7 linked regions of the Homo sapiens genome follow. The protein of the gene in region 1 purifies or fractionates together with the protein of each later gene. This does not show direct contact. Each region holds a gene or a part of one and is shown in the gene's direction. Other genes may lie near its edges. The genes, in order: SLCO3A1, ACSL3, TAOK1, ALDH18A1, NRXN3, EXOG and JAG2.

What was found.
Region 2: the proteins of SLCO3A1 (region 1) and ACSL3 purify together in Homo sapiens (affinity purification with mass spectrometry; one large-scale study listed by BioGRID and IntAct). This does not show direct contact.
Region 3: the proteins of SLCO3A1 (region 1) and TAOK1 purify together in Homo sapiens (affinity purification with mass spectrometry; one large-scale study listed by BioGRID and IntAct). This does not show direct contact.
Region 4: the proteins of SLCO3A1 (region 1) and ALDH18A1 purify together in Homo sapiens (affinity purification with mass spectrometry; one large-scale study listed by BioGRID and IntAct). This does not show direct contact.
Region 5: the proteins of SLCO3A1 (region 1) and NRXN3 purify together in Homo sapiens (affinity purification with mass spectrometry; one large-scale study listed by BioGRID and IntAct). This does not show direct contact.
Region 6: the proteins of SLCO3A1 (region 1) and EXOG purify together in Homo sapiens (affinity purification with mass spectrometry; one large-scale study listed by BioGRID and IntAct). This does not show direct contact.
Region 7: the proteins of SLCO3A1 (region 1) and JAG2 purify together in Homo sapiens (affinity purification with mass spectrometry; one large-scale study listed by BioGRID and IntAct). This does not show direct contact.

Annotation. Positions count from the first base shown.
Region 1 is NC_000015.10:91,856,518-91,860,547, forward strand, and holds part of SLCO3A1 (solute carrier organic anion transporter family member 3A1), read left to right. Parts: intron 1-4,030. UniProt on the Homo sapiens protein: Putative organic anion antiporter with apparent broad substrate specificity.
Region 2 is NC_000002.12:222,926,857-222,930,886, forward strand, and holds part of ACSL3 (fatty acid CoA ligase Acsl3), read left to right. Parts: intron 1-160; coding exon 161-333; intron 334-2,005; coding exon 2,006-2,080; intron 2,081-3,764; coding exon 3,765-3,956; intron 3,957-4,030. UniProt on the Homo sapiens protein: Acyl-CoA synthetases (ACSL) activates long-chain fatty acids for both synthesis of cellular lipids, and degradation via beta-oxidation.
Region 3 is NC_000017.11:29,508,667-29,512,696, forward strand, and holds part of TAOK1 (serine/threonine-protein kinase TAO1), read left to right. Parts: intron 1-2,197; coding exon 2,198-2,326; intron 2,327-4,030. UniProt on the Homo sapiens protein: Serine/threonine-protein kinase involved in various processes such as p38/MAPK14 stress-activated MAPK cascade, DNA damage response and regulation of cytoskeleton stability. Phosphorylates MAP2K3, MAP2K6 and MARK2.
Region 4 is NC_000010.11:95,635,952-95,639,981, reverse strand, and holds part of ALDH18A1 (delta-1-pyrroline-5-carboxylate synthase), read left to right. Parts: intron 1-2,545; coding exon 2,546-2,695; intron 2,696-2,784; coding exon 2,785-2,889; intron 2,890-4,030. UniProt on the Homo sapiens protein: Bifunctional enzyme that converts glutamate to glutamate 5-semialdehyde, an intermediate in the biosynthesis of proline, ornithine and arginine.
Region 5 is NC_000014.9:78,705,009-78,709,038, forward strand, and holds part of NRXN3 (neurexin 3), read left to right. Parts: intron 1-3,773; exon of another isoform or gene 3,774-4,030. UniProt on the Homo sapiens protein: Neuronal cell surface protein that may be involved in cell recognition and cell adhesion. May mediate intracellular signaling. Functions as part of a trans-synaptic complex by binding to cerebellins and postsynaptic GRID1.
Region 6 is NC_000003.12:38,506,072-38,510,101, forward strand, and holds part of EXOG (nuclease EXOG, mitochondrial isoform 1 precursor), read left to right. Parts: intron 1-782; coding exon 783-897; intron 898-4,030. UniProt on the Homo sapiens protein: Endo/exonuclease with nicking activity towards supercoiled DNA, a preference for single-stranded DNA and 5'-3' exonuclease activity.
Region 7 is NC_000014.9:105,144,469-105,148,498, reverse strand, and holds part of JAG2 (protein jagged-2 isoform a precursor), read left to right. Parts: intron 1-59; coding exon 60-173; intron 174-269; coding exon 270-383; intron 384-610; coding exon 611-727; intron 728-971; coding exon 972-999; intron 1,000-1,087; coding exon 1,088-1,173; intron 1,174-1,774; coding exon 1,775-1,888; intron 1,889-1,998; coding exon 1,999-2,114; intron 2,115-2,525; coding exon 2,526-2,768; intron 2,769-3,437; coding exon 3,438-3,569; intron 3,570-4,030. UniProt on the Homo sapiens protein: Putative Notch ligand involved in the mediation of Notch signaling. Involved in limb development.

The DNA of each region.
Region 1 (4,030 bases):
CAGCCATGCGAGACTTCTCTGTGGATAATTGGAGAATGAAATATTGCAGGCTGTTTGCAGGAAAGGCACATTTCTTCCTTTTAATTCATCATGGCTTTCTTAGGAAACCTGAGACCTTGTGTCTGTAGGGGACCACAGGGCAGGGTCCACGTGCTAAGTGTGCGTTATACGTGATCCTTACCTTGGCAATCAGCCTGCCTCTCTAATGAGGCATTTCCAGATACTTGAGGAAGGACTTGCCTTGGGACAGTGCCAGTAATGCTCCCTTTCACAGAGAGGAGGGTGGTTACAAATTCTATGCCAACGATGTTATTTCCTATTAGATTCCCAGAGTCCACCTTCTTATTTCATCTCCCCAGGTGCCTTAAAATATTGCAGTTTCATTTCCTTATTTTTTTCTGAAAAGACAAATTTCTCAGTGTCCTGAATGACACTAGTGTAGGCTTCCCAACTGCAGAACTGAAGCAGAAGGTTGCCTGTGATTTAAGAAGCAACTTTGAGAAGGAGGACTCGTGTGTGTGTGTGTGTGTGTGTGTGTGTGTGTGTGTGTGTGAGAGAGAGAGAGAGAAAATGTGTGTGTGTGTCTGTGTGTGTGTGTATGTATGCATGTGTTTGTTTTCCACCAAGAACCTGCCCAGGGAGGAAACTCAAAGGAAAACTGTATTGTATATAAGGCCATCAATTGTTAGGCTAGGCTGGGGGCCTGCAACTTTTGCCTTGGTGTCAGGCAGTACAGAAAGACACTGATCCTGAAAGCCAGACTCAGTGATCTAGATAAAGTAACCCAGGTGCAACCTGGGCCAACTGTGGATTCTGAAATCTATTACGGTTACAAACATCTTAACTGGAAACCATGCTTCAGATAAACCAATAGTCACAGGGATGTTCCATCATAGTCACCTAAACCTCCTGACTGGCTATGACATAATTTTTGCAGCATAAGAGGAGAGGCCTGCTCGGTTTGATAGTCATTTTGTATGGAACAGAGAATGCAATTTAATTTTCTTCTACTTGGGTTTTGGCTTCGAGTGGCTCCAGTCCTGTTTGCAAGGATGTAACATGTGCTTAAGTCTTGGACTGGTTGGAGAAGATGCAGGCATATGAGAACTGCATGGGGAGAAAGTCATTTTGTGTGTGCCTATTGGTGTTTTGCAGAGACCCCCTAAAATGTTTTAAGCCACTCGCTGAGGGTAGCCCTGCATATAGAGGTTTCTGTGTGGTATCAAATTACTGAGGACTGGAGTAGATAAGGGTGTGTACAGGAAATTAAAGCCTCTGACACTTCTAGATGATTAGTTTGAGGCATACATACAAATACATTTGAATTTCCTCAGGTTGAAAACTGAAAAAAGGCCAGTCTAGTTTCCTGGGTGGGGCACAAAGGGAGTTCCTGTGAACAAGGGGTAGGTATTTCCCTATTTAGAGTTATAGAAAAATAAGTTTGAGGTTGTGGTGACAAAATAATGACATAGATGACTGAGTGTGGTTAATGAGGCTCTATCTCACTGCTTTGTAGTCACACTTTTTCTTTCAGCCTGAGAATAGTCAAGTGGGCTTGCAATTAATGGGTGAGGCGAAACTGCTAGGTTTGTTACTCCTTTTTTTTTTCTAAAGAAACATCATTTCGAAGATGAGTTTCTGCATATTCAACCCAGAAGCAGACAGCTCAGGAAACTGTCTGTTGACATTTTCAACAGAGAGAGACATTTTTAAAGTCCTTGTCAAATTACTATGATGACTAAGGTAACCGTATTTTATTTAATCAAATTATTTTATACACTTATGCTTACTCAAAGTGACAAAATTCCTTGCCATTTCCATAATTACTATGTAGCCCCAGGTAGTAAGAAATAAAATTACCTTGATTTTTTTTTTCCTTATAGCTAGATTCAAAATGTTAATAATTATTAAGGGAAAAAGGTGTTTCTGAAAATTCTTTTCAGCCAGGTTTGTGTATTTATCTTTGTTTGTGAGGGGGTTTTTGTTGGTGTATTTAACAATAGAAGAAACTGAATGAGTTGTAAAATGAGCGAGGGCTCTATCCTGCATTTTGTTAACTCTTCCCCTCATTCAATTTTAGACACCTTATGAAAAGGATCGCCAAGAGGCCTCTCTGCAGTGGCACCGCCTTGCTAATCAATTGCCCAGCATTTGCAGCTCATCTTGGGTGCTGCTGGAATCGTGTTTTCTGTTATGCTGCATGGGCTGCTTCTTGCACGAAGTCATTGGTGAACTGCTGGGCAAAGGCAGCCCCACCAACAGGGTCTCTGTGAATTTATTTTGCACACCTAAAAGCAAACTTTGAGGTGCTGCCTTGATCAGGGACTGTATTCTCTTAGCAGATTGGCCTGGATGAACAAGGGTAGTATTGCAAAAATGATGAGGATACAGCTGCATTTCATGCAGAAAGAGTGAAGAATAAAACTCCCTACTAGCTGCATTTCTCTGGCTTTAGTTCCAACTCGCGCAGATTTCACTACATGCATCATTTAATAAGCATGTTTCTCTAAAGTGGAGTCAAAGTACTTCTCTTCTGCATATGTACTCTATTCTGTACATTGCCGCATGCATTGCATATTTACATACGTGTTTGTGTACAGCGTTGCATACAATGAATATTGTATGCCATACTTTTTGAAGGTGCGAAGGGACATTTCAATGGTAACTTTGACTGTATGGTTGACACATGGATTTGGAACCGTTCTCCCCTGAAGAAAATCTCGGTATTTTCTTGCCTCTCGGAAATGCCTTTGGTAATCTGTAGGCCAGAAAGATAGCATCCTTACTCTTTCAATTCATTTTTATTTTCGGTTTCTATGTCTGTATCTGGAAAACAGATATAAACAGGAAAAACAGTGGAATCATGGACCTTGGCTCATAGGATAAATGAATTGATGTGATTCAAAGACACTTGTATTTTATGTAGCCTAAGTGTTTATGTGTTAGCATGAGACAAATTATTGCTTAATGGTTAAAACTCCAAGTTAAATGATTACAGTTCCAAGGTGGAGAAAGGCAAGTGTCTGTGGCAGCTGTCGCTTATTCGATGAGTGTTAGAAGACTGGGATTCATGCCTATGTCCTCCCCTTACCTGCTCTGTGACCTTGAGCTGTTTACTTAATCTCTGTGTACCTCAATTTTTCATTTTATAACTGGGGTTATAATAGTACCTACCCTCTGTTTTGCTGTGAGGATGAACTGAGTCAGTACATGTAAAGCACCTTGAACAATATCTGGCACATAGTGAGTGCCCAGGAAATATTAGCTATTACTATTAATAATAATATGGTTATGCATATTTACTGCAAACATAATAACCGTGTAGCCCCAACCAATGAGAAATAAAATTATTTCAATTAAACTTTAGTTTTGGTTTAGTGAATTGCATATTCAAGTAGTTTCCTATTCTACATGGACATTTTTGTCTGGGAGGTAAAAAGTTTTTAAGGGCAAGTAATAAGCTAAATATCAGTTGCTAATTCTGTTTATTCCCTTATAAATATAGCAATCCATTTCATCTTAAAGATGCTATAAAAATTAGTCACATGGGAGAGGAGCCCACTGCAGGAATGGTGATTCATGTTGATCATTTACAGTCCATGGGTACTTGAAGGAGGTTAAAGCAGGGCAGGCAGGACTGGCTGGGCGGGGCAGGTACCCTGATGCTTCACTTTGGGAGGTCCTCAGTATCTCTTGCTGTGGTCTGTGGCCACTGGGTGCTGAAGGCTGAGGGTAGGTGGAAAGAATGTTGGACTTGGAGTTGGAAGACCTGGATTTGAACTTAGACTTGCTATTTCCCAGCTCCTGGCAACTTCACTTACTCGAGCCTCAATAGCCTCATCTGAAAAATGGGGATAATGATCAAGCTTATCTTACAGATGGTTGTGAGGTTTAAACAAATAGTCATGTGATAGAGTACTTCTCATAGGGTACAGTATTCCACAGTTGCTTTAACAGTAATGGTATAACCCTGCTCGTTGACATTAGCACCAACAAAAGTCCCTCCCAGGGAGCTGAGGATTTGGAATAT
Region 2 (4,030 bases), on another chromosome or scaffold:
AACATTTGGGGCTCAAGAGACTCTCCAAATTGGCTGTGTGACCTTGGATAAGTAACTTAATCTCAAAATCTCTCATATCAAAACTGGGGGATTAGTTTAAGTGATTTGGAAAATCCCATTCAGTTTTAAAATCCTGTGGTTCTCTAATTTTTTTCTTTAGCTTTGTTTTCCGGAAAGTTCGAAGCTTGCTAGGGGGAAATATTCGTCTCCTGTTGTGTGGTGGCGCTCCACTTTCTGCAACCACGCAGCGATTCATGAACATCTGTTTCTGCTGTCCTGTTGGTCAGGGATACGGGCTCACTGAATCTGCTGGGGCTGGAACAATTTCCGAAGGTAGTGTTCTCCATGGTCAGAGGCTGGAGTGTGATGCCAGACGTTTTTTTGGGGTATGGGATATTTTCTGCAAATATATAGGAGAAGAGTAGTAAGGTGTTTGTGAGGCAGAATAATGGTGGATTCCAAGTACTATGATCATTGATATCAATTTTTAGAATGTATTAGATGCATCTGGAGTCAATAATTTATCTGGAGAAGTTTTTATATCAAACTGATAGGTAATATTAAAAACCACTTAGCATTTTGGAAGAGAAACTTTAGTAACAAACACTGACTGTTTTGTGTACATTTATTTTCTCACATCAGTGATTAAATTTCTTTTTATGTAGAAAACTTAAGGTGCTTTTGTTTATTTGTGTAGGTGAGTATATTAAGGCTCAGGTTCAGAAATGTTTATGAGGATTTCTGTAAGTGTTAGAGAAGGAACTAAGTTCTGGTCTAGGGAATATTATTACCAGAGTTTATCATGTGGTTGTGTTTGAGGAGGAGATCTACCAACTAATCAGCAGTTCTGAGATGAATCGCATAGGGCCTCATGCGTCCCTTTTATGGGAGAAAGTTATTTTGCTTTCCGGTACAGGATACAGCTGTGCTTCTCCTACTTTGTATTTGCCATATACGGATAGATACAAAACCTCATGACTGATTTTTCCCTATTTATTTTGAGTGGCTCTGTATACCATTTTCATGTATTACTTCATTTTTCTGTTTTTCAGTTATGTTCTCTGTTTTCGTATATTTTTGGAAGCTAGTTCTAAGTCATGTTTTGTAGGAAATAAGCAATCTTAAATACATGCATAGGGGATTTCTTTCTTCTGAGGATCCTTAATTTCTTCTATTTTTAAGATTCAAATTGAATGATTAATCAGTAACAGTTTATGTTTTAAATAAAAGTCTTTAAAATGTTAAATATCAGCCTTTCATTTCTGATATTTGGTCTTTGAAGAGGAAACATAATGCAATAGTAATTCATAATAGTGGAGGGTTCTTTCCTCACATCCTTGAAAGCCACCAGTCTTATTCTTCAGCCTGGCTCTTGAGCTATTGCTGTATTAATTTTAAATAGGGTGTGATAGCATAAGCTGATGGAAGCCTGCAGAGATCTCACTTTGAAATGGTGATACATTACATGGGAAAAGATTAGAGAGGTGTTTTATACTGCACATCGGTGAGGCCTAATAAGAAAGTAGAATAGACGTAAACCATTGTTTTCATCATCCTTTAAGACAGGGATTTCAAACTCAAGAACCAGGCAGCTACCTATTTAAATGAGTCAAGTGGGCCCTAATGTAAGACAATGTGATGGGTAAGGATTGATTCTGAGGGAACAGGAGCAGGCATGCCCTCTCTAACAGAGGCCGTCAGTTCTGCTGTACCTGAAATGTGGGCCCATTGTTGCTGGCGATTCCACACTTACATCTAAAATTTCCTGATTTTTTAAGAATGACAATAACTAATTTAAAAAAAAAAAAAAAACCTCAATGTAGGCCAAAAAATACGACTCTACAGGCCTCACGGCCTGTGCTTCACCAATATGTGACTTCTGCTTTTAAGGAATAGCTGGGGATACCTCAGCCTTAGGATAAATAATCATTTTTGGTAATTTAGAAAAATGAAGCAGTGTATTAGCTACTGTTCTCAAATATCCTTTTTTTCATTTAATTCCTAGTGTGGGACTACAATACTGGCAGAGTGGGAGCACCATTAGTTTGCTGTGAAATCAAATTAAAAAACTGGGAGGAAGGTAATAAACTATTTTAACCACAGAGCATTAATTTTTAAAGTATTAAACTTGAAAATTAGTGCTTCACTTTCTTGCTTTAGAATGTAAACACCCATAAGTGCTCATTTTTGTCCTTTGTGATAGACGTGTTTTATCTCGAACTATATGAATGCATTTATTTTTCTTGTTTCAAAGATGTTTCTGAAGAACTATTATTGTTTTCATTTTACTTATTACGTAGATGCAAGTAAGAATTATGGCAAAAACTTGAGAAATGTACTAATAAGTGAATAATGTCAATAAATTAGGAGTGATCATAACTTTATTTTGCAGAAGTAAAATTATAAAATTTATTTTATGAAATTGTGGATTTTTAAATGATTTTTTTCTTTTTTTTTCTGAGGGCTTCAACCTTGTATTATTAGAAGGAAATTTTCACTGCAATTCCATAGAAGTCTGTTTATTCTCATGCCATTTAAAATAATGGTCACTTAAAAATTTATTTGATCCTGTTAAAATATACAAATTATCTGTGTTTTATTGGGATGCACCTTTCCTCTACATTAAGTAAAGATAAAGATTCTGGCCGGGCGCAGTGGCTCACTCCTGTAATCCCAGCACTTTGGGAGGCCAAGACGGGCGGATCATGGGGTCAGGAGTTCGAGACCAGCCTGACCAACATGGTGAAACCGTCTCTACTAAAAATACAAAAATTAGCCAGGCGTGGTGGTGCGTGCCTGTAATTCCAGCTACTCGGGAGGCTGAGGCAGGAGAATCACTTGAACCCGGGAGGTGGAGGTTGCAGTGAGCCAAGATTGCGCCACTGCACTCTAGCCTGGGTGACAGAGCGAAACTCTCATCTCCAAAATAAATAAATAAAGAAAGATTCTAAGGCTTGGATGTCTTTTAGCTATCTTTAGCAGAATTAGTGGGAATATTTAATAAATTTAGGCTTGGAGTCATTTTGAAATTATCTATAAGAATAAATCTTAATATGTAGTAACTCACTTTTTTTTTTTTTTTTTTTTTGACACGGAGTTTTGCTCTTGTTGCCCAGGCTGGAGTGCAGTGTCAATGGTTTCGGCTCACTGCAACCTCCACCTCCTGGGTTCAAGTGATTCTCCTGCCTCAGCCTCCCTAATAGCTGGGATTTCAGGTGTGCGCCACCATGCCCGACTAATTTTTTGTATTTTTAGTAGAGGTGGGGTTTCACCATGTTGGCCAGGCTGACCTCAAACTCCTGACCTCAGGCGATCCACCCTCCTTGGCCTCCCAAAGTGTTGTGATTACAGACATGAGCCACTGGCCCAGCAGTAACTCATTCTTATATAGGGATTTGTTCTATTAATTGCATGACTTAATACTTCTGTCAGTTTATCAATATGATATTTAAGATGTTGCAGAATCTTTCAAATAATTTGTCTCTTGTATTTATAATTTTATACAACAAATGGAAGATGTTGGGTTTTAGAGTTTAATTTTTTTCTCAGAATAGAAGTTTGAAAACATAAATACTTATGGTTTAGCAACTGAGATTTTGTGCCTACTGTTAAATTGATAAACTTTGTTCATTCATAGTGTCTGCCTTTTTTCCTTTGGGAAGTTCTAATTGGATTAAAATAAGATGACTGTTTAGAAACTAGTAGTTTCAAATTTTCATGTGTTGTATTTAACTCAACTATTAACTCAATTATTATTTTATTAGGTGGATACTTTAATACTGATAAGCCACACCCCAGGGGTGAAATTCTTATTGGGGGCCAAAGTGTGACAATGGGGTACTACAAAAATGAAGCAAAAACAAAAGCTGATTTCTTTGAAGATGAAAATGGACAAAGGTGGCTCTGTACTGGGGATATTGGAGAGTTTGAACCCGATGGATGCTTAAAGATTATTGGTAAGTCATCTAATATTTTTTTGAAAATGAATGTTTCTGAAATAGTTTACACAAGAAGCACAATATATTTAGAG
Region 3 (4,030 bases), on another chromosome or scaffold:
CTTGAATTTCTGGCAGCATTTTAATATCAGAATGATTTAAGATTACTGTAATAAATACAGATAATGTTGAAGATTATAAGTTATGAAAGATTCAGATTCAGATTGAGCTCATTTGATTATTGACAAATAATTGTCATTATTTTACATGATAAAAGTTAGTTTTTAGGATTTTTGTTATGTGAAACCTTTTCTTCTAATGTTTTTGGTGTCCCATTGTTTTACTTTTTTTGATAGCCATGTTTGTCAAGTAGAATGTAGACTTCTCAGTAAATTCACACAATATCATTAAAATATGTCCAGGTAGTCTGCAGTGAGGCATTATTTATCATAGCTACCCTCTTCTCCCTTTTCACAAAAAAAGAACATTCTTATAGTAGTAGGGACCCTGACAAAATAATTTATAGTATAAATACATACTTGATTTTGAAATAATTTGATGAAACAATGTATACATATTTAAAATCCTCTGGGCATTGGATATTTTCATTTTTTTATTTTTTATTTTATTTTTATTATTTTTTGAGACAGAATCTCCCTCTGTCGCCCAGGCTGGAGTGCAGTGGTGTGATCTCAGCTCACTGCAACCTCTGCTCTCCAAGTTCAAACAATTCTCCTGCCTCAGCCTCCCAAGTAGCTGAGACTACAGGTGCATCTACCATGCCTGGCTAATTTTTCATCTACCATGCCTGGCTAATTTTTGTATTATTTTTATTTTAGTAGAAAAGGGGTTTCACCATGTTAATCAGGCTGGTCTCAAATCCCTGACCTCAGGTGACCTTCCTGCCTCGGCCTCCCAAAGTGCTGGGATTATAGATGTGAGCCACCACACTTGATAGATATTATTTTTAATAGCTTGGGAAAAGGCGATACTAACATATTTAGGAAAACAATTCCTGAAGCAGATATGCAATGTGGTAACAAATTTGTTTTAAAAGTATATAACCAGGATGGGTGCAGTGGCTCACACCTGTAATCCCACCACTTTGGGAGGCCGAGGTGAGAAGATTACTTGAGCCCAGGAGTTCAAGACCAGCCTGGGCAACATGGGAAGACTCTGTCTCCACACACAAAAAAAATAAATTAGCTGAGCAGGGTGGCATACGCCTTTAGTTCCAGCTACTCAGGAGGCTGAGGTGGGAAGATCACTTGAGCTCAGGAGGAGGCTGCAATGAGCCATGATTGTACCACTGCACTCCAGCCTGGGTGACAGAGTGAGACCCTGTAACATATTTTTTGAGACAGGCACTCGCCCTGTTACCCAGCTGGTCTTGAACTCCTGGGCTCAGGTGATCCTCCCACCTCAGCCTCTCAAAGTGTTGGGATTACAGGTATGAGCCACAATACCTACTTAATTATATACATGCAAATATATGTGTGTATGTGTATGTGTGTGTGTTTGAGACATGAACATTTATAGAAAAAATTAGAGGCCGGGCATGGTGGCTCACGCCTGTAATCCCAGCACTTTGGGAGGCCGAGGTGGGTGGATCACCTGAGCTCAGGAGTTCAAGACCAGCTTGGCCAACATGGCAAAACCCCATCTCTTCTAAAAATACAAAAATTAGCCAGGCGTGGTGTCACACACCCGTAGTCACAGCTACTTGGGAGGCTGAGGCAGGAGAATCACTTGAACCCGGGAAGCGGAGGTTGCAGTGAGCCGAGCTCGTGCCACTGCACTGCAGCCAGGGTAACAGAGCAAGACTCCATCTCAAAAATAATAATTTTAAAAAAAGAAAAAATTGCAAAAGATATGCACCAAAATGTTTACATTGGTTATCTCTGGATGCCAAAATTATGTAAGATGTTTCTTGTTTTTCTGTATTTTGTAAATATTCTACAATGAACATGTATTGCATATAGAATCAGAAATAAAATATAGCATTTGTTTTGTTTTACTGAGGGATTGAGGGTTGGGAGGAAGGTATACTTCTGTTAAATGAAATAAAAAGTTGACAACATTTTTGACCCTGTAAGAGATCAACATTTCAAAGATGAGTTTCATCTTACTGATTCTATGAAGTTCAAATTATAAGGATGCCAAGTAGCACATGTTTATAATTTGGTTCAGTCTTTTATTTTGGTAATGTTTCTAATGATTTCTTGTTCTTAGAAAATAAAAGGTATTCTTAATGATGTATATTAAACCACTACTTTATCTACTTAACTAAATTTGATTCATTTTTTAAACTTCATATAGGCTAAAGTGATGTCCAATGAAGAGAAAAAATTTCAGCAACATATTCAGGCCCAACAGAAGAAAGAACTGAATAGTTTTCTCGAGTCCCAGAAAAGAGAGTATAAACTTCGAAAAGAGCAGCTTAAAGAGGTACTTATGTCATAAAACTTTCCAAGCAAATTTTCTGCTTATTAATTATATCCAATGGTGACCAACTCATAGAAGCATTAGGATAAAATTATCTTTTGTTGTTTATGGTCACTAAATGGGTATTAGTTTAAATGATGACATTGATTATAATCAGTTACCCTTAACTGAGTCATTTAGTTGAGTAGGATTTAAAATGAATCATTTCCTGAAAATATACTTTTTTTATGTTTTTATTTTATATTTATTTATTTATTTTTGAGACAAAGAGTCTCGCTCTGTCACCCAGGCTCGAGTGCAGTGGCGCGCTCTCGGCTCACTTCAAGCTCTGCCTACTGGGTTCACACCATTCTCCTGCCTCAGCCTCCCTAGTAGCTGGGACTACAGGCGCCCACCACCACACCCGGCAAACATTTGGTATTTTTTTTAGTAGAGACGGGGTTTCACCATGTTAGCCAGGATGGTCTCGATCTCCTGACCTTGTGATCCGCCTGCCTCGGCCTCCCAAAGTGCTAGGATTACAGGCATGAGCCATCGTGCCTGGCCTTATGTTTTTATTTTTTGTGTGTATTTTTTGAGACAGTCTTATTCTGTTCCACGGGCTGGAGTGCAGTGGCACAATCATAGCTCACTGCAGCTTCGACCTCCCGTGCTCAAGCAATCCTGCTTTAGCCTTCCAAGTAGCTGGGAACACAAGCACACACCACCACTCCTGGCTGATTTTTAAATTTATTTTTTGTAGAGACAGGGTCTTGCCATGTTGCCTAGTCTGGTCTCAAACTCCTGGGCTCAAGCAGTCCGCCTACCTCGGCTTCCCAAAGTGCTGGGATTATAGGCATAAGCCACCGCACCTGATCACATTTATTACTTTAAAAGTAAACAATAATGTCTTACTTTTGGATCAGAAGATTATAATAATTTGTTTTTATGCCAATTTAAATGTAGAATAAGGGAGATATTTGCTTATCAGGTTTTTTTTAAGTAGAATATGCTGATTATTTCTTTGTGGCTACAGGGTTTCATATTTGTTTGCCCTTTCTTGTGCTGCCCGGCCTCCCCCCTACCCCCCGCTTTTTTTTTGAGACGGAAGTCTCACTCTGTCATACAGGCTGGAGTGCAGTGGTGTGATCTTGGCTCACTGCAGCCTCCCCTCCCCCCAGGTTGAAAGGATTCTCCTGCCTCAACCCCCCCGAGTAGCTGGGATTACAGGTGTGTGCCACCATGCCTGGCTAATTTGTATATATTTTTTTAGTAGAGACGGGGTTTCACCATGTTAGCCAGGCTGGTTTCAAACTCCTGACCTCAGACAATCTACCCACCTCGGCCCCCCAAAGTGCTGGGATTACAAGAGTTAGCCACCACTCCCGGCTCTTGTGCTGCTTTTTGTTTGTTTGGTTTGGTTTGGTTTGAGATGGAGTCTCACTCTGTTGCCCAGGCTGGGGTGCAGTGGCATGATCTCGGCTCACTGCAACCTTTGCCGCCTGGGTTCAAGTGATTCTCCTGCCTCAGCCTCTTGAGTAGCCGGCATTACAGGCGACTGCCACCACGCCTGGCTGATTTTTGTATTTTTAGTAGAGATGAGGGTTTCACCATCTTGGCCAGGCTGGTCTTGAGCTCCTGACCTTGTGATCCACCCGCCTCAGCCTCCCAAAGTGCTGGGACTACAGGTGTGAGCCACAACATCCAGCTGACAACTTTTTTTTTTTT
Region 4 (4,030 bases), on another chromosome or scaffold:
ATCCCCTTGATGAACATGTACACCACAACTTATAAAGACTTGTTGGGGAAAAAAAAAAAAGCCTTCATACCAAACAGCAGTTTATAGGGTATACAAAGAGCAGTATTAATACCATAAGGACACAATTGGGAAAATGTAGGCTGGGAAATCCTAAAGAATAAACAACTCAGTTTAACAAAAAATTACAAGGGGGAAAACTGATGGAGAAGGGAACCCATGAATGAAAGAGACTTGAGAGACACTTCAATTAATTTGTAATGCAGGGTTTAATTTGCATCTCAATTTGAGCAAGGTAAAAAAAAATTGGAAAAATATGAACACTGGCTATTTGATATGAAGGAAATCATTGAAATATTCCAGATAATGGATTTGTGGAGAGAGAAAGACATATAATTATATATTATATATAATATATATGATTATCTTTTAGCAGTTATTACTGAGCTATTTACAGATGAAATAACATGTCTGTTGCCTGGAATTTGTATTAAAACAATGGTGAGGGTATAGAGGGGTTATTGGAGAGTGGGAAGTTGGCCATGAGAGATAGTTGGTGAAACTGGGTGGTATGTACATGGGGATTTATAATACTATTCTCAGCACTTTGGTTAAGTATTAAATTTTCTTTTTCTTTTTCTTTTTATTTATTTTAGAGAGAGGGTCTTGCTCTGTCACCTAGACTGGAATGCAGTGGTGTAATCATAGTTCACTGCAGCCCTGAACTCCAGGGCTCAGTTGGGATCCTTCTTCAGCCTCCTGAGTAGCTGGGACTACAGGCACATGCTACTTGGCTATTATTTTTTTTAATTTTTCATAGATATGGGGTCTTACTATTTTGCTCAGGCTGGTTTCGAATTCCTGGCCTCAAGCAGTCGTCCCACCTCAGCCAGCTGAAACTTTCTGTGATAAAATATTATTGTCGGGGCCAGGCACAGTGGCTCACACCTGTAATCCCAGCACTTTGGGAAGCCAAGGTGGCTACTCAAGGGGCTGAGGTCAGGGGGTTGCTTGAGTCCTGGAGGTCAGGGCTACAGTGAGCCATGATTGTGCCACTGTCCTCCAGCATGGGTGACAAAGCAAGACTGTGTTTCAAAAAAAAAAAAGTTATTATTGTTTTAAATCATGGTTTATCATAGCTGTTTGTTAAACAGCTGGACCAGTTAAAAGGTTTCAGACATCAGAAGGAAAGGACAGTTTAGGAATATTGACTTTATTACATCTTGAGTCTTTAATTTTTTCATGTAGGTCTGCTTAAGGTAGGAAACAAAGTGACCGCATTTGGTCTTGGGCAGACAGAGCAGAACAAGGTCAGCATGTGCCCCTGGTGTAGGCAGAGGCAACCCATAGGATTAGACATGCCACCAGAACAGCCTCCTTTACCCGGGTTAAGCCTTAGAACCTGAGAAGCCATCTACTGAGTCTGCGTTGCATTTCCTACCTGCGGACTTTTATTCTGGGCTTCATTTCTTGGAGGAACTAGGCCTTCTGCATTACACACTCCCTGCAAATATTAGGTTGGCACAAAAGTAATTGTGGTTTTTGCCATTACTGTCAATGGTAAAACTGCAATTACTTTTGCACCAACCTAATACAGTCAAGTCCTATAGATGTCAAACTTGGCTACACACCAGAATTTCCTCATTAAAAATGTCTTACTTAGGCCAGGCATGGTGGCTCATGTCTGTAATCCCAATGCTTTGGGAGGCCGTGGCAGGAGGATGGATTAAGACCAGAAGTTTGAGGCCAGCCTGGGCAACATAGTGAGACTCTGTTTCTACAAAAATGTGTTAAAAAAGAAAAATTAGCTGGGCATGGTGGCATGAGCCTGTAGTTCCAGCTACTTGTGAGGCTGAGGCAGGAGGATCACTTGAGCCTAGGCAGCCAAGGCTGCAGTGAGCCACATTCATGCCACGGCACTCCAGCCTGGGCGACAGAGCAAGACTCTGCCTTAAAAAAATTTTTTTCTTAGGGTGTTGTTGTTGTTGTTGTTGTTGTTGTTGTTGTTGTTGTTGTTTTTGAGACAGCATCTCTCTCATTCTATTGCCCAGGTTGGAGTGTGGTGGTGCGATCATGGGTTACTGCAGTCTTAACCTCCCTGAGCTCAGGTGATCCTCCTACCTCAGCCTCCCAAGTAGCTGGCATGCACTACCATGCCTGGCTAAATTTTGTACTTTTTGTAGAGATTGGGTCTTGCCATGTTGCCTGGGTGGTCTTGAACCTCCTGGGCTCAGGCATTGTGCCTGCCTTGGCCTCCCAAAGTGCTGGGATTACAGGCATGAGCCACCATGCCCAGCCAATTGTTTTAATTAAAAAATAAATTAAAATGTCTGATTTTTGTCTGCCACCTGCTAAATAGAAATTTGAGACAGGATGTAGGAATCTGTGTTTTTACCAATCTGGCTGATTCTTCCAGAGCCAGCCACATGCTGGTTCATAAACCAGCATTTGGGATCTACTCGATAGCCCACCCTACCTCCATCCCTTGTGAAGAGATGAAAGAGACAGTACGGTAACTTACAGTCCCCTTTCCTTTCTCAATGCCCAGGTATCAGTGCTGCAGAATCAGGGCAGAGAGATGATGCTGGTGACCAGTGGAGCCGTAGCCTTTGGCAAACAACGCTTGCGCCATGAGATCCTTCTGTCTCAGAGCGTGCGGCAGGCCCTCCACTCGGGGCAGAACCAGCTGAAAGAAATGGTGAGTGCTGCTTCCCCACACATTGAAATGGATCTTCAGGTCTTCTTCCCTCATTCCCTACCACACCTTGTCTCATTGGTATATTACAGGCAATTCCAGTCTTAGAGGCACGAGCCTGTGCAGCTGCCGGACAGAGTGGGCTGATGGCCTTGTATGAGGCTATGTTTACCCAGTACAGCATCTGTGCTGCCCAGGTGAGAGGCTGGGCTTTGAAATGGGTGTGGGACCTGTGAGGGTGGTTGTTGTGGAACAAAGGGGTCTGGAGCCAGACTATTGGAATATGGTGTCAGCTTCATCACTTGCTACTTGAGATCTGAAGAAAGTTTCTTTTCCTTTTTGTGCCTCAGTTTCCTCATCTGAAAATGGGGATAATATCAGTGCCTATTTCAGATAATTTTTGGAAGGGCTCAGTGAGAAAATATATGAAAAGCATTTAGTATAGTGTTTGGTACATAATACATTGTCAGTAAATATCAGTTCTTGTTACACTAATAACTTAGGATTCCAAGTGCTAACACTTCTGAAGACAGAGAAGTTAAATGTCTTTATTTCACTGGCTTCTTTGATTTCAGGTGGCTTGCTTCTCTTTGCACCTGGTTGGTTGCCTTTTATAGCAGATATTTATTAAGCTTTGAAGGGAAAGAGGAATGCTGGTGATTGGTTGGTTTTTCACTCATTCAGCAAATATTTATTGAGCACCTATGGTGTACCTAGCAGTCTTGGGCATTGGGGATACTGTGGTGAACAAATCAGACATGATTCCAGTCCTCATGGGACTTACGAATTTTTGGTGGCTACCCCTAAATGTTCTAGAACCTTCTTTCTACATTGTTTCATTTTTACCTAAATCTCCTGAATTTTTTTGAATTATATTCTTAATCAACTGTACAACTACACACTAGAGACATCTCAATAACAGTCACTTCAGGAAACAACTGAAAAAAAAATCTAACTCCCAAATTATTTTATTTTGAAATTCCTTTACCTGTAAAGATGTAAAATAGCTGTTATTTTATATTATGGATATTATTTTACATGTACACTACATGCACAGATGTTATTTTACACAGGTGATATTGTTATATATACATATATTGTTTCAGGTTTTGCTTCTTCATTTCCTGTTACTTTTTTTTGTTTCTCCATCATTTGCCTGTTTGTACCCACAGTGATGTTCTGGTATTACACCAGAGTGTCCTCAAGTCAGTGAGGTAAAACAGAAAGGCACGGACTTGTCCCATTGCCTATGGCTGGGGACCCCACTTTCTGTAGTCTTAGCTTTTTTTCTGTTAGTATAAATACAGTATAAATCTCTATTTATATCACTCTTCTTTA
Region 5 (4,030 bases), on another chromosome or scaffold:
TCCTAAGCATGAGTCACGTGTCCAAACAGCAGTCTTTACAAGCCCATGGGTGGGATAGTAAGACCAGCTTGTCACTGTTTGTGACTCTGCTTCTGTACCTCCCAGTCTGTGTGACATCTTCCCCCATGGGGAGCCGTTTCTACTTTGTCTTTAATTGCTCCTCACCGAGGCGACTTGTCAGCCAAGGCTGCTTTCTGTCATTTGATGCCACATCTCTTCCTATTTCAGCCAGCCATTTGGGGACATTCATTTAGTTGACAGTCTGATTTTACAGAGAACATTGTACCAGACAATAATTTGCCTTGTAAGGGGGTCCAGCAGGGTTTCCTGCCTCCATGCTGACCCAGGGTGCCAGTACACTTCTGCGTGGCTGTGGCTGTGGTTCTGCACAGAGCAGGTGGGGAAGGTGAAGATATTAACAATGGAGAGTCCCAGTTGAGCATCACTGGGCTACAAGTCCCTTGCCCTCCTGTCCTTTTCCTCTTGGTAGATAAACCTTCACAGAACCTCAATTCAGGACCCTATCCATTTCCAACAGAACCCCAACACCATGGGAGATGAAGATATAGGATTATTTCTTCCTAGGTTTGTGTGCCGGTTTAGAATTGTCTGTGTCCTACTATGTCTAACATCCCACTTGATCTTGACAACAGCCCTGTGAGCTGGGAAAGAGGGACAGTTTGTGGAACAGATATCGAGGCTCTTACCTTTGGAATAAATAAAATGGGACTCAGAAGGGTTATTCAGCTGTCAGTGAGAGTGGTGTTGGCTTTTTATTCACAACAGTGAAAACTCCATATAAATAGACAGGTAATTTCAGGGCCATGGAGTAGATAGAGCACTCACCCTCAAAGAGCCTTTGAGAGAAGTCTGGTTATCTCTGTCTGGCCAGTTTCTGGCCCTTGCTTCTCTTACCTATGTCTTCAGAAATCTTCATTCCGGCTATTCACCTTCTCTCCCAGTCTCAGTTAGGTACCCTTCTCACAGAAGAGTTCCTCTTCACTGCTCTTGTATCTTGTTAAAAGGCTTTTTTTTCCCTCCTTTTTATTCTGTCCCCAGCCTGCTGTAGCAATGCCTGATCTCTCTTTCTATTTATTGTTCCATGGAGCCAAACCTCCTTCTGTCCCTTTGGGATGACCTATTGTTATACATTAATAATTAACCTTTACTAGGAACTCTAGTCACAGGCATTTAACCCAAATGCAGAAAAAGCCAAAGTTTGTTTATGACAAAGAGTTCTCACATGCTAAGGTATAATAGTGAAGGTTAGAAAGGAGAAGCTGACACTCATTAAACTTTTATGATTTCTTTTCTGGTTTACTCACTTGAGTGATTGCCTGAGGATCCTGCAATATTTCCCTTTGCACATGGTCAGCCCAGTTTAGCTAAAATGAAAAATTCAGCTTTTGAATTGTGAAGTTGAGCATGCATGACTTTCCATGTAATGTTAAAGATAAGCCTCACAGGTGCTGCTAGTGGGGCCTGGTTCTGAGCATATGGACCCTGGGGCCCAAATGCCTAGGTTCAAGTCCTGCTCTGCCACTTATCAGCTGTGTGCCTGTGGGCCGGTTCCCTAACTGCTCTCTGTGTCTGTTTCTGCATCTGTAAAATAAGGCAATGATTACAGGTATCTCAAATGGGTGTTGTCTGTATCTAATGGGATGGAGAGGTGTTAAATCCTTACCATGGTGCCTGGTGGTAGGTGCTTAATAAGTGTTAGTATCATTATTTTCAATGTTATTGACTATGGTTAGGTCCACGGTCAAGGTTACATAATAGTGAGTCATTTTCAATGCTTCGCCATAGTTATATATCACTCTTGTAATATCCATTAGAATGCAAACAGCTTTGCTTGATTCTCTCCTGGTGATGAGAGATGGGAACTAATTCTACATTTAAATATTGGGGATTATATGATATGTGCTGGAGTGACCCATCCAATTAACTTTGTCTCACAGATATGGACAGATGAGGCTTATTTTAGAAATTAGCCATTGTTGTTTTGGAGATGATAATGCAACCTTTTCAGGGCTGTGGAAATAGCGAAATGAGATTAACAATAACCCTCCAAATAGCTGCGACTTTTGTGCCCTTATGATATTGCATTCCTAAGTGCTTCACATGTTTTAAATCATTTTATTATTACAAAATAAATAGTTTGTTTATTCCTATGTTCCCAATTTCAGGAGAGGAAACAGACTCAGAAAATTTACTTTGCCAAAGTCACATAGCTTGTAAGTAGTAAATGTGGAATTCAAACCTAAATCTGGGTCCTGACTTAGAATTTGAATAAGGTAATATAAAGAAAATAGGAAAATAGTTGGGACGCTCAATACTCAGATCCTTGTCTATTTCCCTTCCATTGTTTTCTGCTTATTAAGTTTTTATGGATACGACATTGCTCAGAGATCAGAGCGCCAAAAACCATTCCAGGGTACTGTATCAAATTTCAGTTCAAATAAGAGTAAAACTTTTTTGAAATTCTAATTTCATGGAGAAAGATTAATTTCTGCTTTTAGATGGATTATACCTGGTTTAGAAAGTCATAACAGATTTTTTTCCCATAGGTTATTGGGGTTCAGGTGGTGTTTGGTTACATGAATAAGTTCTTAAGTGGTTATTTGTGCGATTTTGGTGCACTCATCACCCAAGCAGTATACACTGCACCCTATTTGTAGTCTTTTATTCCTCACCCTCATCACACCCTTCCCCTCAAGTCCCCAAAGTCCATGTATCATTCTTATGCCTTTGCGTCTTCATAGCTTAGCTCCCACATATCAGTGAGAACATACAATGTTCGGTTTTCCATTCCTGAGTTACTTCACTTAGAATAATAGTTTCCAGTCTTATCCAGGTCACTGCAAATGCCATTAATTCATTCCTTTTTATGGCTGAGTAGTATTCATATATATATATCACATTTTCTTGATCCACTTGTTGATTGATGAACGTTTGGGTTGGTTCCACAATTTTGCAATTGGAAATTGTGCTGCTATACACATGCCTGTGCAAGTATCTTTTTCTTATAATGACTTCTTTTCCTCTGGGTAGATACCCAGTAGTGGGATTGCTGGATCAAATGGTAGTTCTACTTTTAGTTCTTTAAGGGATCTCCACACTGTTTTCCATAGTGGCTGTTAGACAGTCATAACAGATTTTTTTAACTGCCATCCTCACGTTCTCCACCTACCTACCCACTCTGCAGGACAGTGGCCATGGCTTTGCAGAAGTGTACACTAACCTTGGGTAGGGCATGGAGGCAGAAAGCTCTGCTGGACCCCCTTGCAAGGTGAATTAGTATCTGGTTCAGTATTCTTTGTAAAATCAGACTCTCAACTAAATCAATGTCCTTGACTGACTGGCTGAAATAGGGCTTCAGGGTGTCTCATTCTACCACTGTACAGAGGGCACATGCAATGTGCAAAAAATAAAAACAAAAACAGACCTCTGTCCCCACCAGCTTTTAACACTTACTCTTTTCTTTCAAGTAATATATCCACATGGTTGAAAAAAAGTCTAACACTGTAAGAGGGCACAGTGAAAAGTAAGTCACCCTCCCACTCCAGAATATTAATCCCGCAAATATACTCCCCAATGACAATTTTATAGTTCCAAAGAGACTTTATGCTTACTGGAGCATATATACATATAATGCCCCCACGCCCCCACACTTTTACACAATGATAACATAATGCACCCTCTATCCTGTTCCTTGACAATTTCACTTAACAATGTGACCTGGAGAGCTTCCACATCAAAACCAAAAGCAATACCTTGTTTGCAAGGCCTGCCTAATATTCCATTATAACGCTGTGCCATCTGCTATTGATGGTCATTTAGGTTGTTTCTGGTATTTTACTAAGGGTGCTTCAGTAAATCACTTTGTATGAAGTATGTGAATCCATGCAACTCGATCTCTCTTGATTTTTATTTGCAAGCTTATGTTGTATAACTTTCTGACAACACAAGAAATTGGCCAGGAGACAAAAGAAATTCTGTAGAAATATAGAGGCTTTTTTGGAGCTTGTGT
Region 6 (4,030 bases), on another chromosome or scaffold:
GGCAGGAGAATCACTTGAACCCGGGAGGCAGAGGTTGCAGTGAGCTGAGATTGCACCATTGCACTGCAGCCTGGGTGACAGAGTGAGACTCCATCTAAAAAAAAGAAAAAAAAAATACTTGCCATTTTTATCTGGTAAGTTGACAAAAACAGATTTTAAATGATAAATCCCAGCATTATAAAGATTGTTGTGAAACTGCTGTGTTGTATTTTAATTTTTTAGAGTAAATTGATATAACCCTATTAAAAGCTTATAGAGTAAATTGATATAACCCTATTAAAAATGTTAGTTTTACATATGATGACGAGTCTTTAAAATAAATTCATTCAGTAATTCTGGTCCTTGAAATTTATCCTAAGGAATTGATACAACGTTGCATTATATAAGAAATGTTAACATAAGCCCAATTGTCCTGCAAGAGGAATGGTTAAATAAAGTATATCATCTTGTTGGAATGATACATAATTCTTGAAAGCTGGTTGGGAACTATGGCATAAAAAAAGTTTTAAGTTCATGAAATTTGAATTCCAGAATGTACTCTGAGCGCACATAAAGAAAAATGTAGATAGTTTTGTTAGTGTATGTGATTTTTAAGTTTTTTCTGTGCAGTAAGCAAACTGGGAAAATAATTGTTTATATGCTTATAATGTTTTGTGCCATGTTCTTGTTTAATTTCTCAAATGCAGTTTTTCTTGGTATCTTTCATAGGAATTGATATGATTTGCTGCTGTCTTACATGTATATATGTGAGAATATCATACATTTTTTTATTTGTTTTTCAGAATAGAAATGTACTGTCGAGAGCTGACAGAAAGGTTTGAAGATGTTTGGGTGGTATCTGGGCCTTTGACCTTACCTCAGACTAGAGGCGATGGAAAGAAAATAGTTAGTTACCAGGTAAGGATGTTTAATAGTCAGGTTTATGTTATCTGTATGAGATTATAATCTCACTTTCCATTCTGCTTTTTATTTTTATTTTTATCATTCAAAAAAAATTTTGCATTCTACTTTTTAATTTCACTTATTCAACAATATTTATTGAACACCTATTAGGAATGATAGGCATAGGGAATATAGTGATGGATAAAAGCAACTATTGACTTCAAGGAACTCACGGTTTAGAGTGGAAAACAGATGTTAACAATTAATTACATTAAAGTGTGACATGCTGTAATAGAGGTAAACACACACAGTGTGGTCTTGTGAAAGGACTGATGGGCTCTACTCATATGAGTCAGGAACGCTTAAAAGAGGAAGTGATATTGAGCTATACCTTGACAGATAAGAGTCAGGAGTGGACCCTGAGGATTCCAGAGGATGGAGCAGGATGAGCACAGGACATTTGTGGTCAACATCAGGGTTTTGAGATTTATATATCATTCATAAAAATTGGAGCTTATGGTACAAAACAGTGTGGGTGGCTCAAGGGGTATGAAGAGTTCCATAACAACAGGTGGACGGGTGAGATAATATGCGACTTTCTATTCTATGATGAAGACTTGGGTTTTAATTTTTAGGCACTAAGAAGTCATAGATTTGTTTTAAGCGTGGGAGAAATATGATATTTGGGTTTTATAAAGAGTATTTTGGCAGCAGCGTGTAAAGAGATAGGTGGGAAAAGGGAGCATTTGAAGAAGAGATTAGAGGCAAGGAGATGAGTTAGGACATACAAGCAGTTGGAGTGAGGAATAATAGAGGAACACAGGAAAGAGTAACCATGAATAAATAACTTGTTTGAGTGAGGAAGAGGGAGAAGTTCCAGGATAACAACTAGATTGCAGACCAGGCTCAGTGGCTCATGCCTGTAATCCCAGCACTTTGGGAGGCCGAGGCAGGCGATCACGAGGTCAGGAGTTCGAGACCAGCCTGGCCAATATGGTGAAACCCCGTCTCTGCTAAAAATACAAAAATTATCTGGGTGTGGTGGCGTGTGCCTGTAGTCCCAGCTACTTGGGAGTCTGAGGCAGAAGAATCGCTTGAACCCAGGAGGCGGAGGTTGCACTGAGCCGAGATCGCACCACTGCACTCCAGCCTGGGCGACAGAGCAAGACTCCACCTCGAAAAAAATAAAAATAAAAATAAAATAAAAACAACCAGATTACAGTGTTACAGTGAGTTGAATAAATGGGAAGAAAAGCTTTTCTTCTAGAAGCTTCTTTTTTTTAATATGCAAGATATGTGAGCACTTTTATAGACTGAAAGAGAGATTAAAGATAGGAGAGTGTAATTAGTGGTGTGAGAGCTTCAGACATCTAATGTTGCTGGGAAATTCTTAGCTAGCCTTTCATATTGGCAATTTACAAAGTGGTATACCTGAAGAGCAGGTGTTCTTAGAAAAAGTTTAACATTTAATCTTATCATGCAGAAATATCCTGAGGATTCTTCCAAGAGGGTGGCTGAAATGTTATACTATACTGTGAGGCTTACAGAGGGCAGGGAACAGGTGGAGTGAAGCAGAAGAGGTGGTAGAGTGAGTAAAAAGAAGCACTGAAGGACTTGCTAATAAGGCCAAAGAGGAGGGGAGGGAACACCTAGCTCAGCTCTGGAAATAAAGTAGATATTTAATAAATGCTGGTTAGGTAAATGATTACTTAAGTCTGTGATAAAATTTAATAACCTGAGGAACAGATTGAGGAACCACCCCCCCCCCAAAAAAAAACCAAAACTTTTAGAGTATATTCTGTCCATTTGACTTGCTTATTATCAGCCTGTCTAGATCAGATGTGCAGTAATGTCCAAGCATCCAAGGATTTGTATAGGTCCATATGAATAGCCCACTTTCTCTTTTTCCACACAAAATTATGACCCAACTACTTCTTTTTGTTAAGTGGAAATGATAGAGTAGTTGTTTTCAAGGATTTGTACATCCTTGGAAAATTCCAGTAGATATGGGAGTGAAGGAAGTCAAAGGAATTAGTATTTTAAAATTAATTCATTTAATATCTCTCCTCCCATATTAATTTCTCTCCTCTGATTAACTTGCTAATTTAATTTTAGTATATTTTATAGTCTTAGGAGAAAAAAAGGCTTAAAGCCCCCTGTATTATTTTTCAAATATTAATTATTCTTGGTCTTTGTTAAATCCTGTTTATTTTATGTCAGAAAAGAGGCTCTTCTAGCTTTGACTTGTATATCTTAAATGGTTAAATTACAGTTTTATTTGTGCTTTGTTTTTATAAAATTGAAAAATTTATATCACTAGCCTACTGTGTAGTAGAACAAAAATTTGTACAATGTTTAAAACGAAAAATTAACCAATAATTACAAGCATTTCACTACATAGATTTTTGTGTGGCTATTTCTGTAAAATATGTGTTGCCCAAATGCCGTAGTGGAAAATGTATTGTTTTTCTTAAGTTGGATATAATTTTTAAAAATAGAACTGATAAAAATATATCTTCTAGTTGTTTCTGCTGAAAAGGCCCAGAAGAATTGGTATGTCATTAGCAATGAACACATCTTGAGACCCAGATATTTGTTTCTAAAAAGCATCTCCTGAAAAGACTCAGCGCTTAGAGAAATGACTGATTTAAGGGGTGGTACAGGGAGAGTACAAAATGGAACATCATATATCAGAAAGCCAAGGAAGTGCTCAGACAAATGGTGGGGATATGTCAGAAGGACATGTGAATCAGCTTGAAGGAGCTCCCACTTACTGTATCTGGTGCTATTGAATATCAAAATAAAATGGATTATAAACCTATTGAATTAAATAAGAATACATACTCAATAAATATGTAAATACATAGGGTGTAAAGAAAAGCTTCTGCATACCATAGAATGTCAGTTAATAAATTTGCGAGAATGAAAGAGTTATACAAATCATTTTGCACACATCACCATAATTGATTCAGGCAAGAGTCATCACTAGCTAAAACTAGTGAGTGAATGTTTTATGAGGAATAGGGTATTTACATAATCTAAAAGTATCTCCTCATACATTATTTATTAATCACAAAGTAAGAAATAACTTTACAGTGAAGAAACATCCCATTACCCAAGTGATCAAGTTTAGTATTGCTAGTAATGG
Region 7 (4,030 bases), on another chromosome or scaffold:
GGAAGCCCTCCCTGAGCGCCGGTGACCCCCCGCCCGCTGACCGGCGTCCTCGCCCCCAGATCCCAACGACTGCCTTCCCGATCCCTGCCACAGCCGCGGCCGCTGCTACGACCTGGTCAATGACTTCTACTGTGCGTGCGACGACGGCTGGAAGGGCAAGACCTGCCACTCACGTGAGTGTCCGCAGGCCCTGGCCGCCTGGGGCTGCCCCCAGGACCCTGGCCCTGGCGGTCTGGGGCCTGCCTGCTGAGCGGCCCATGTGCCAACAGGCGAGTTCCAGTGCGATGCCTACACCTGCAGCAACGGTGGCACCTGCTACGACAGCGGCGACACCTTCCGCTGCGCCTGCCCCCCCGGCTGGAAGGGCAGCACCTGCGCCGTCGGTGAGGAGCCCCCGCTGCCTCTGCGACCGCCGGGCATATGCCCTCCCAGGCACCGCTCCCTCGGGCGCGATGGGCCGAGGGGTCTTTTTTGAGGGCCACACCTGCCACCTGCCCCCTGCCCCCTGCCCCCGGGTCTGTCTGCCCTGTCTGGGTTGGGGGCGCGGTATGGAGACCCAGGGCCAGCCCAGGGCCAGGTGAGACGCTCCCTCCTCCTCCTCTCCTTACAGCCAAGAACAGCAGCTGCCTGCCCAACCCCTGTGTGAATGGTGGCACCTGCGTGGGCAGCGGGGCCTCCTTCTCCTGCATCTGCCGGGACGGCTGGGAGGGTCGTACTTGCACTCACAGTGAGTGTGGGAGGGGTGTGGGCGGGGGCCGCTTTCCTCCACCCAGATGACATCCCTGCCCCCGACTCGCCCCCCAGTCCCTTCTGCCAGCCCCTCCCCCTGCTGCCCCTGCCCCCAGCAAAAGGCACCCTCCTTGATGACCCTCCCCAGCCCCACAGCCTGATCACGCCAAGCCAGCCTGGACAGTGCCTGGCACGCTTGGGGGGTGGGTACTGATCCCCTGCGTTCTCTTCTCCCAAACCAGATACCAACGACTGCAACCCTCTGCCTTGGTGAGTGGCACCCTGGGGGCCACAGCAGGGGTGGGTGGGACTTGGCATACCACGGGGGGCCACCTGATGCCCACCCTCTGCTCTGCAGCTACAATGGTGGCATCTGTGTTGACGGCGTCAACTGGTTCCGCTGCGAGTGTGCACCTGGCTTCGCGGGGCCTGACTGCCGCATCAGTGAGTGGCCAGACAGCCCCAGCCCTGGGAGCCCCTCAGCCCAGCCGCGGTGTCAGGAGTCTGGGGACATCAACGTCCACGTCCCTTGAAGGGCAGTGTGGCCACAACTACTTCCTGCCTCTCTTCTGAGCCTCAGTTTCCCCACATGTCTGTGCCCTGTGGGGTTCCTGCTGTATACCCTGCCAAGTGATTAAGTGGGGAGCCCCAGCCTGGGGGACCAGTCCGGGGCCCAGGGAGCTGTGGGGGTTGGAGCGTGCAGCCTGACGTGGGCTCCTCTGTGGCCGCAGGGCTGTTGTCCCTGGGTGTTGGCCCAGCTGTCTGTCCAGCACCCCTTGGCTGGTCCGACGCAGCAGCTGGGGCTAATCCAGGATGGGACAGGCCCACTGCAGAAGCAGACGGAGGAGGGTGCTGTTGGGCCAGGGTCAGGCTGGGCTCAGGAAGGCCTCAGGCAGGCAGCAGCTTGGGCTCGGGGGCAGGGGCTGCTCCTCATTGTCCTGGGGCTTGCGCCTGTGTGCCACTGGCTCCCCGCTGCCCTAGGCCATGCCGGTCCTGCGGTGGGCGTTGGCCTCACTGCACTGAGCAGCGGTGGCTCTCCCTGCAGACATCGACGAGTGCCAGTCCTCGCCCTGTGCCTACGGGGCCACGTGTGTGGATGAGATCAACGGGTATCGCTGTAGCTGCCCACCCGGCCGAGCCGGCCCCCGGTGCCAGGAAGGTAGGCCCCGTGTGATTGCCCTGGGTTGGGGCGGGTTGGGGGGCATGGGTGACACCCAGCCCCGAGGGCCAGATGCCCACTGCTGACCCTCGAGCCCCTTCTCCCCACAGTGATCGGGTTCGGGAGATCCTGCTGGTCCCGGGGCACTCCGTTCCCACACGGAAGCTCCTGGGTGGAAGACTGCAACAGCTGCCGCTGCCTGGATGGCCGCCGTGACTGCAGCAAGGTGAGGGCAGCCCGTGAGCCGCCCTGCCCTACCCGAGGCTGGTGCACGCTGACCCTGGCCACTCTGTGAGATCAGGAGGCGGGTGCTGGGGTCCGGATGGACTGAGAGCCGTCTGCCCTCAGGGACACCCAGGGAGGCGAGAGCTCAGCCAGGCCCCATGCTTCGATGTGCAGTTGGGAAAACAGGCCTGGTCTGGGTCCTGCCTTGCTCCGCCTGCCCTTTCTGATGTCGAGCTTGGCCTGCCTCCCTGGGAGCCCTGGGTAGGGGGTGGGCTGGGCCCTGGGGCTCACAGACTTGGGCGGTGTCCCTCCTTGGCATGGGGCCCGTGCCTGCCTGTGGGTTCTCATCTGTGTGCCTGCATCTGACCCTCCTGTGCGCCTGCGCCTGACCCTCCTGTGCGTGCCTGCCCAGGTGTGGTGCGGATGGAAGCCTTGTCTGCTGGCCGGCCAGCCCGAGGCCCTGAGCGCCCAGTGCCCACTGGGGCAAAGGTGCCTGGAGAAGGCCCCAGGCCAGTGTCTGCGACCACCCTGTGAGGCCTGGGGGGAGTGCGGCGCAGAAGAGCCACCGAGCACCCCCTGCCTGCCACGCTCCGGCCACCTGGACAATAACTGTGCCCGCCTCACCTTGCATTTCAACCGTGACCACGTGCCCCAGGTGAGGGGCCTGGTGGCATCTGAGCTTGCAGAGGCCACACGCCGGCATCTGCTCGTGGCATGGCGAAAGCCTAGCCCCGCAGGGCAGGGAGGCCCTGGTTGGCTGAGCAGAGTCACTCTTGGTCACAGAGAGTGGCCCTGTGGGGTCAGATGAGAGGGGCATTGGGCCTGGTGCTGGGTGGAGGTGGCAGAGGAGGCTGGGAGAGCAGCCAGCTGGGGGTGCCTGTTTGTCCAGCTGCCCTGAGGGCCTGGACTGACGGCGCCATGGCTGCCTGGCCCCAGCTCTTGGGCTGTAGCTCCGTGGGCAGTTTTGCCCTGGCCTAGGAGCCACCTTTGCCTGCTGTGTGCTTGGAGCTGGGCCCCTGTCTCCCAGGAGGGGCTCAGAACTGGAGGAGACCCACTGTACCCCGCCCTGCCTCTCCTTCCCCCACTGGCCTGCAGGTGGAGCTGGGTCCGCCCTGAGGATGGGCGGGTGGGCACCGTCACTCCTGCCTCCTGGTATAGGGCACAGCCGGGTGGGAAGCTGCCCCCCCAGGCCCTTGGCATCCTTGCTGTGCTCTCCTGGGCGGGCTGTAGGGTGTGTCCCACGTGTACCCACAGCGCCAGTCCAGGGATGTAGGTGTCAGGTTCACGGCCCTGCCCTGCCCACGCACTGCCTGTCTCTGCCCAGGGCACCACGGTGGGCGCCATTTGCTCCGGGATCCGCTCCCTGCCAGCCACAAGGGCTGTGGCACGGGACCGCCTGCTGGTGTTGCTTTGCGACCGGGCGTCCTCGGGGGCCAGTGCTGTGGAGGTGGCCGTGGTGAGTGCCCAGTGGGGAGCAGCACCTGGGTGGGCCCTGGGTCCCGTACTATGCAGGTCCTGGCTATGCTGGACAGAGGCTCTGGCGAGGCTAGTCCTGGTGCGGAAGGACTGCGGGCAGGCCTGTCTCCCTGCGGCCCCTCGCTGTCCATGCCGCAGACCCGTGGAACTGCTCCCTGGGCCTGGCCAGCATGAGGGAGATGCAGGGCTGTGGTGTGGAGCCCGCTTCCCCTGCAGCTGCATCCTCGCCCGGTCCCCTGCTCTGTTTTTGTCTCTGTGTCCCTACGTCACAGGCAGCAGGAGAGTCCGTGGGCTTAGTCTGCCCTGGGAGGCCTGCTTTGGGACTGGCACCTGCCCTGGACCTGGGGGGTGTCAGATGTGAATGGATACCAAGGGGGTCGGGTGAGACTGGGGTGGAGACATGCCCGGAGAGGGGAGGGAATGTTCTGGAACATGGTGGGT